Linked DNA regions of Homo sapiens: region 2 is linked to region 1. Evidence: fine-mapped expression QTL. A gene starts in region 1. The other region holds a variant in brackets. All regions are shown on one strand. Distances are between the middles of the regions. Region 1 holds the start of MYO7B-AS1 (MYO7B antisense RNA 1). Region 2 overlaps CYP27C1 (cytochrome P450 family 27 subfamily C member 1).

Region 1 (4,383 bases):
ATCTTGTGGCAGATGCGGGAGACGTTCTGCTCTGCGGCCTCCACCTCCACCTGGTGCGGGGGCTGCTTCCGGGGCCCCGTCCTGAGGGGGACAGCGTGTGCTGCAGGTGCCACCCCCACCCTCATCCTCACCCATGCCCCAGCCCCGATGTGGGCCCTAAACCATGTGCCAGAAACAAAAGAAAACCCCAGTGACCATCACTGGGGTGGTTCCAGCCCCTCGCATGTCCTGGGGGCTGCCCCTGGCTCCACGCGGCCTCAGAGGTAGTGATGGTGCAGCTGTGCCTGAAAGCCTGGGGCACACACGGGGAAGGGCCAGGCCAGGGGCTCCCGGGAAGGCGCCGGCAGGAAAGGCTGGCAGTATTCTTATTCTCGCACAACAGGGGCATCGGGCAGGGGCCAGGGACTCTGGCAGGGCCTCTATGGGGCGCCCACCTCTCTCTGTGACCACGGCTGCCACTGAAATTATGGCCACTCCTACAGTCAACCTGCCCTCCTCACGGCCACAGGAGGCCAAGCCAGAGGAGGCAGGAGGGGTGGGGGAGAGCAAAGACGGCCAAGGAAGAGCTTCACGGCTGTGGGCGGATGAGGGAGGCCGCATGGACTTGGAAGGATGGGCCTCTGACCTCAGCCTTGAGGGCCTGGGCTGGGGCATCCAGGTTTCTCTCTATCCCTCAGGCAGTGCCTCTGTGCCACTGCTGGGCAGTGGTGGGGCAGGGGAGCTGGTGGCTATGACTGAGCCTTCTCTTGACCCTCCTGGGCCTCACCCTCCACCCTCTTCTCTGGCAGCTCGGGGCCCAATCCTGCCTGCCAAGCTGACACTGGCTTCTGGAGAGTCCTCCCAGGACCATGAGCTCCTGGAAGGCTGGCCAGGCCCCACAGCATCCCAGGTCTGCGGGCCCAGGGCCAATGCTGGGGGCTGGAGGCACTGGGCTCACCTCAGGACCTTCTGGATTCGGCGGCTGCAGTCGGGGGCCAGCAGCTTCCCCCTCCGAGTGTCTATAAACTTCTGGGCATGGGGCAGCAGCCCCTTGCTGGGCGGGAAGAGGCCCGTGCACAGCCACAGCAGCTGCCAGCCCCGCTCTTCGCTGTGCCTGAAGGGTAGCACTTGTCAGCCGGGAAAGGCCCCTCAGGGGGCCCTGGCCAGGCAGGCACCTTGGGGAGCAGGGACGGATGTGAGAGCTGCCTGGGGTCTAGAGGGCCCGAGGGGGAGGGCACCTGCCAGGCTGCACCATGCCAGCTGTGCCAGGCTGCCCGATGCCACGGGCTTTCACACCCTCAAGATGGGGGCGGGTGGGCATTGCACCCATTTTGTGGAAGACGACACTGAAGCTCAGAGAGGTCATGGCCTGCCAGGTCACACACAGAGGGTGGGAGTGGGCAGGGCCATCCTCTCCTGCTCTGACCACCCCTAGGACATCAGCAGAGCAGACCAAGGGCCCAACCCTTCCCACTGCTGAGGCAGGAGCCCAGGCAGGGGTTCTGCCGCCACCAGCTGCGGTGTCCTCTCTGAGCCTCGGTCTGGCCTCAGGGGCCGGGATGAGGACTGAGGGTGCCCGCGTGGGCTGGCCGCCGCCCCAGCAGACCTGTTGGAGTTGTGCGTCAGCTGCTTCAGGATCTGGCAGTAGACCTCGTCCTGGAGGGCCGGGTGCTGCAGGGCCAGTGTGAAGATCTGGTCGGTGAGCTCCAGGGTGGGCCAGGCCTGCCGAGAAGGGTAGTCGCCCATGTACCGGAGGATGGGTGTGGCTGTCAAGGAGCACAGTGCTGGGGCAGCCCCACGCTGACACAGACTGGGGATAGACGCTGACCCCGACCCCGGCCCTGCGGTGAGCCATGTGTGGGCTCTGTCCCGCCACTCCAGGTTTCTCAGATCTCCTGGGCTCTCCTGCCCTAGAGCACAGCTGTAGGGCCAGGATGTGCTGGGTGCCTCTGCCCTGGCATTGACGAGGTGCAGGCAGGCTGGTGGGGAAGGATATCGACAAAGATCTGGCAGGCGATGTCCCAGAGGTCGACGTTGGCGTGGACTCGCTTGAGCAGCGGCTGTCGCAGCGGCTCGCAGGAATAGGCCCACAGGTGGCCACGGGCACGGGCCAGGGGCAGCACGGCCATGCTCACCATGTCCTTCTCTGGAGCCCTGTGAGGTTAGAGGCTGGTGTGAGGCCTGCCCTGTGGCCTTCTCTGTCCCACGCTTCTCTGTCCTCTGACACCCCTGAGTGGCTGTGGGAGGGCCAGAGCACCCCACCCTGCCGCAAGCCCCTCCTGACTCCCCTGGCCTGGGAAGGCCAGGCAGGCTCCACATGGGTGGCGTGGCCTCTCTGCAGCTCTCAGTGGGTGCAATGAGGTGGAGCGGGGCTGGGAGCAGGGGGTGCAATGAGGTGAGGTGGGGCTGGGAGGTGGGGGTGCAATGAGGCGGAGCGGGGCTGGGGGGCACCTGAAGAACTCATAGGAGAACTCCTCCAGGGTGTGCAGCTTTTCCTTGGGTGGCTCCTCAGGACGTGGCTCTGTGAACTGCCCCTCCTGAGCCGCCAGCTTCCTCTTCTCTGGTGACATGGCAAGCAAGCTCTGAAGGGGGCACAGGCCTGTGGGTGCCCAGGAGCCACCGCCCATGAGGCCCTTCCTGCAGGCTCCTCCCGGCCTGGCAGCCTCAGTGACTTGGGAGGGGTCAGGCCCAGGGCTGAACAGGCCAGGGCTTACCCACACCCCTGTCACCTGCCGTGTGACCCAGGACCATGACTCTACCTCTTGGTGCCTGTCTCCTTTCCCTTGGGAGGGTGAGTGCCAATGGCTGTGGCACCCACATCACCCGTTCTGGGGGCCACGGCACTCTGGGTTTCTCAGACCCCCAGCTCCCCAGCTCCCCTTCTCCATGGGGCCACCTCTCACCCCAGCCCTGCCTGCCTAGTCTGCCACCAACTTCAGGCCTCAGCACAAATGTCCCTCCCTCGGGGATGCCTTCCCAGACAGGGTAAGTTCCCCACCCTATTATTTGTTCCTCTCCTTGGTGGCACTTTGCACAGTTGCCATCCATGTGTCATTATCTGCCCAAATGTCTGCCCTGAGGGTGGAGCTGCTATTATGCCCAGACTCGTACCACAGGCACAGGGCACATACTCAGCACTCAGTATGTACATGTTGCAATGCCTGCCATTCCTGCCTCCGGAGAGGCTGGTCTTGGGGGCTGGGGTGGGTGGTTCCCTTGTGCAGGGAGAGACTTGAGTCCCCCTGGGTCAGAGTGTAAATGAGGCAGAGAAAGATTGGGTTTGTCCCCCGGACACCCCCATGATGGAAGAGGGAGGGAACACCCATTTATTGAGGACCTACTAAGTACCAAGAGCTGGGCTGGCACTGCACACACACCTTGCCGCAGGAATGGTGGGGGCTGCCCGGGTGGCCCTCCTGGCCTCTGCTAGGTGGGCTGCAGGCCCTGAGCTAGGCCTCCCAACTAGGCATCCCAGGACTGCTCCACCCTGACCTCGGGTACCCAGGCTGAGGACAGGGGAGCGTGCCAGTTACCAGCAGCTGTGCCGAGGGCTTAGTGACCGTGGGGATGGTGTAGAGGCAGGCCATGGGCACCAGCCCCGTCTTGCCTGTCCTGTCGTTCTGGCCGAGGGTCCAGTTCTCAGAGGCCAGCAGCCCCTGCTTCTTTGTGAGGACCAACAGGTCCCCCTTCTTGAAGGCCAGGAGGGTGGTGTCATCTGTAAGGGCAGGGAGGCTATTTGCTGAGGGCTCTGCAGGGGCCAGAGGCTGTGCTGGAATTTTGTGGGTCATCTCCTTTGACAGATGAAACCGAGGCATAGAGTGGTGGGCAGAAGACCACTCCAAGAGTGAGCGATGGTGGGACTGGAACCTCAGGGGCCTCAGACGGCTGTCACCTGCTGCAGCTGCACAGGCACAGAGCCCAGGGTGGGTGGGGGCTCGAGAGCTCTGACTGCAGCCCTAGCCCTGGGAGACCCTCGGAGGGCTGACCAGGAGCCAGGGATGAGGGAGGGGAGGATGCACAGGCTGGCAGTCCCCACGCCTGGCCTGAGTGCTGCCTGCCTCTCTAGACCCCTTCCTTATCTGGAATTTGGAGATGGCAATCCTCTTTCCCTCCTGCGGTGGCCGTGAGGACTGAATGGGGCGATAGGGCAGCACATCTCGGCTGACATTTCTCACTGCCCAAAGACCCCACACACAGCCTCTTCTGCTACATCCCAACCAGCACCCCCTTCTGAAGTCCCTGCACTAACCACACCACCCACCGCCCATGACCACCCGGCCAGCAGGCTGGCCCAGCGGGGGTCCTGGGGCTTTGCCATGCTCCCCCATAGCCCACAGACACAGCCCAGCTCTCGATGGAGTGCTGGCTTGTGGGAGAGCTGTGGCCAAGAACTAGGCTCCCACC
Region 2 (4,383 bases), 450 kb after region 1:
AATCCCAGCACTTTGGGAGGTCAAGGTGGGAGGATTGCTTGAGCCAGAAGTTCGAGACCAGCCTGAGCAACATGGTGAAACCCTGTCTCTACCAAAAATACAAAAATTAGCCGGGCGTGGTGGTGCACACCTATGGTCCTAGTTACTCGGAAGACTGAGGCAGGAGGATCGTTTGAGCTCAGGAGGTTGGGTCTGCAGTGAGCTATCTATGATGGCACCACTGCACTTCAGCCTGGGTGACAGAGTGAGACCCTTTCTCAAAAATAAAATAAAATAAAATAAAATAAAATAAAATAAAATAAAATGGCTGTATAAGAATACTTTTCTCTCCACAACGAGTGCTTAATTTTCTAGTCATAATGCCTAATGAAGTTGACTATTAGTTTTTATTTGGAAGAAATAAATAATAAATAAATAATAAATAAATAAAAAAGAAAGCTCCTGGTGAAATCAAGAATAATCAGATTTTCTAACCAAATCTAAATACAGAGTAGAGCAGACGTATAAGAACTGGAAATATGATGACGTAAAATTTTGTTGCCTAAGTTGTGAGAAGTAATAAAACAGGCAGCATGGAAAACAATGTAACTTTAGAACATTTTTATTTCAAGGGAAAATAAATACATAAATAGAGATGCTACAGATACAACAATATTTTTATCTTGATGGTGTTGTTTTAAATATCCACACAAGAACCCTCACCCAGTTGTGTGCCTGTGCCAGGCTCTCTGGGAAGCCGTGGCTCCGGGAGTGCTGGGTCCTGAGGAGTTCTGTTGCCTTTCCTGCTGCTCACCGGTTGCTAAGAGGAAACACCGTGATTTCCTGATGCTCTTGCCTTGTCATCATGCCTGAAACAGCTTATTCCCAATTCTGTAATTCCTTTTACATAATCCTTCTCCAAAAATTACTTTCTTACTAATATAGACCATACAGTTTTTTTTCCATTTAGTAAGTCACTCTGCAAAATAACCCTTAAGTAAATAGACATAATATCCATTTCACATACCATTTTTGTTAAAGTATATAATAAAGTTGAAATCTCTGTGTGGTAGCAGAATAACTCTAGTATGAATGCTGTAAATGTACAGGTAAATGTGAAATTAGGTCATATTAACTGGCCAAGTGTTGGATTGATTACTTTGAGGTAGCAGTATACGTATATTAAGTTTTATAAACTAGATGAAATTGCATTCTGTTTGAGACTGAAATTTAAAAATATTGAGAATAACTAAGCGACTTGAAGTGACCTCTTATTCCCTGGGTATACATACAGTGTGACCCTCTCGTGAAGTGTGGCTCTGCCTGGGGATCAGCACAGGGTGAATAGCAAAGTGCGGGCTGGGGGTAGCACCTGTGCCCGCTGCTGAGTCTCACTGAACAGGAAGGGAAGCAGCCAGACACGGGGGCCTCCTGGTGTGATGTAGCAGGAAGTGCAGGGCGCCACCCAGGAAGCATCCACGCCAAAGAAATGGAGATTCAGCTGGACAAGTTTCTAGGTTCGCTACTGGTTTATAGGAAATATGTGGTATACAGGGAGATGTCAAAACTCCATGGGGGCTGGGCGTGGTGGCTCACACCTGTAATTTCAGCACTCTGGGGAGGTTGAGGCAGGAGGATTGCTTGAGGCCAGGAGTTTGAGACAAGCTTGGGCAACACAGTGAGATCCTGTCTACTAAAAATCAAAAAACTTAGCTGAGTGTGGTGGTGCATGCCTGTAGTCCTAGCTATTTGGGAGGCTGAGGCTGGAGGATTGCTTAAGTCTGGGAGGTTGAGGCTGCAGTGAGCTGTGATCCGCCATTACACTCCAGCCTGGGTGACAGAGCAAGACTTCATAACAAACAAACACACAAACAAACTCCATGGGGATGCAGTCAGCAAAATCCAGAATAGAGTGAGGTCTATAGGACCAATGTCTCGGGTTTCCAACAAAACAAATACGTGACAGGCAAAAAACAAGAGGAGGGGCCAGGCGAGGTGGCTCATGCCTGTAATCCCAGCACTTTGGGAGGCCAAGGCGGGCGGATAACCTGAGGTCAGGGGTTCCAGACCAGCCTGGCCAACATGGTGAAACCCCATCTCTACTAAAAATACAGAAATTATCCAGGCATGGTGGCGGGCTTCTGTAATTCCAGCTACTTGGGAGGCTGAGGCAGGAGAATTGCTTGAACCTGGGAGGCAGTTTGCAGTGAGCTGAGATCACGCCACTGCACTCCACCTGGGCAACAAGAACGAAACTCCGTATCTAAAAAAAACAAAAACCAAAAAGCAAAAAAAAAACCAAGGGGAGAGGAGAACTGTTACAGATGAAGCAATATAGGAGACATA[T/A]TAACCAAGTACAATGCTGGACTTCGTTTGAATCAGATTCAAATAAACCACTTGTAAAAAGACATTTAAGAGATAATTTTTAAAAATAAAATAAAAGCCAAAAATATTAATTCTTCCAATGCATGAAAAAAAGAGAGCAACTCGGGGAAATTTGAATGCTGACTGTGTGTATTTGATGATATTTGGGAATTACTGTTAATTTTTTTGTTGTGATAATGGTAGTTATGTTTTAAAAAAAGAGACTTTATCTCTTGGAGATAGCTCTTAAAGATATAAATGTTTATGGCTGAAATGTTATGGCATCTTGGATTTGCTTTAAAATAACCCAGCTTGCTGCAGGAGGTGGGTATTGTGTGTGTGGGAAGGTGGGGAGGCTGCGGGAGGAAGAGATGACCCAAGATTAGGCAGATGTTGTTAACTGTGGAAGCAGGGTGGTGAGTGGGGGCTCATGACATTATGCTCTCTACTTTGTGTACGTGTGAACATTTCCGTAATAAAAGATGCCTTCAGAAACAAAAGACTGATCAATAATCTCATCATTCATTCATTTTCCATTACTATTTGCTTTTACCAGCACAACTGATTGTAAATTAGGCTCTGCGGAGAGCTCTACCTTCCCTTTCAATAGTGTTAGAGGCCGGGCGTGGTGGCTCATACCTGTAATCCCAGCACTTGGGGAGGTGGAAGTGGGAGGATCATTGGAGGTTAGGAGTTTGAGAGCAGCCTGGGCAAACAAGGTGAGTCTCTTTCTACAAAAAAATTTTAAAAATTAGCCAGGTGTGATGCATGCCTGTAGTGCTAGCTACTGAGAAGGCTGAAGTGGGAGGGTCTCTTGAGCCCAGGAGGTTGAGGCTGCAGAGAGCCGTGATCACACCATAGTACTCCAGCCTGGGTGACAAAGTGAGACCCCCATCTCTTAAAAAAAAGGGGGGTTGGTTAGAAATGATTGACTTAACACACTGCAATAGTACAATGGTTGTGCTAGGGTTTAGGGGACCTGTTGGGGCCCAGGTAGCCTTTGCAGCTGAGAAGGAAAGACAGACAAGTCAGATAGCAGGAAGAAAAGGAGAAGTGGTCCCAGCAGGGGCTTAAATGGGTCAGACCACAGGGTATGACAGCAGGGGGTGGTGGGGCCCATGGGGGCACTCCCTGCCTGAAGGTTTTCAACCTCCAATTTTAAGAATGTGCTGGGCAAATGAAAGGGCTCACCTGCTGGTCAGGTCTGGGAAGCTGGCCGGGGTTCATGAGCGAGCCAAGGGCCCAGCACAAGCAAATGCCAGCGTGAGGCGGCTCCACAGCCCCTTCCCGGCAGAGGCAAGCACACCCATCAGGAAGGTGGGGGACCAGCACAGAGACAGCAGAGCCATTTAGGTGAAAGTAAAAAGGAACTTATCAGAGGGACACTGGGCATTTGTCAAATGGAAGGACCAGCAGACCAGCCAAGCATCAGCCAGGGCCATCCAGGAATCTTAGCTCAGGATCTGGGGCCTCCCCAGCTCCTGGCTCATGTTTCTGTGGCTCTCCTGAGGGGCTTGGCCTGTGATGGACAGGTGCTCTGACAAAAGCAGGAGGGCTGCTGAGCTGGCAGCCACAGGAGTCCACTGGCCAGCATCGCCAGTTGCTGGGCCGCACGTCCTCTCTCCCGTGTGTCCTCTTTCCCTTGGGGTCCCTGCACACCTGTGTGTCATTTCTAGCCCCTCCCTCCTCCACCTCCGATGAAGACTTGGGCTATTCAGAATACTTTTTTTTTTTTTTTTTTTTTTTGAGACAGAGTCTCGTTCTGTGGCCCGGGATGGAGCACAGTGGCACCATCTTGGCTCACTGCAGCCTCTGCCTCCCAGGTTCCAGTGATTCTCCTGCCTTAGCCTCCCCGCATAGCTGGAATTAAAGGTGTGTGCCACCAAGCCCAGCTAATTTTTGTATTTTTAGTAGAGACAGGGTTTTACCACATTGGCCAGGCTGGTCTCAAACTCCTGATTTCATGTGGTCCGCCCACCTCTGCCTCCCAAAGTGCTGGGATTACATGTGCGAGCCACTGCACCCAGGCTCAATACATCT

The links.
Region 2: its variant is fine-mapped to the expression of MYO7B-AS1 in skeletal muscle (GTEx, PIP 0.92).

The regions. Positions count from the first base shown.
Region 1 is chr2:127,628,956-127,633,338 of GRCh38, reverse strand. MYO7B-AS1 (MYO7B antisense RNA 1) reads left to right here and starts at 2,555. Exons shown (of 3, transcript XR_923314.3): 1 at 2,555-2,964; 2 at 3,780-3,902. MYO7B (myosin VIIB) reads right to left here. Exons shown (of 48, transcript NM_001393586.1): 35 at 3,513-3,694; 36 at 2,431-2,561; 37 at 1,976-2,133; 38 at 1,586-1,739; 39 at 938-1,093; 40 at 1-81. RefSeq lists an enhancer at 1-12 and silencers at 283-332, 433-522.
Region 2 is chr2:127,182,292-127,186,674 of GRCh38, reverse strand. It overlaps CYP27C1 (cytochrome P450 family 27 subfamily C member 1), which reads left to right. Exons shown (of 9, transcript NM_001367502.1): 9 at 1-2,843. Among named protein-coding and RNA genes, the nearest start is that of CYP27C1, 36 kb to the left of the region's middle. RefSeq lists an enhancer at 3,154-3,710. The variant T/A (reference allele first, on the strand shown) is at 2,326.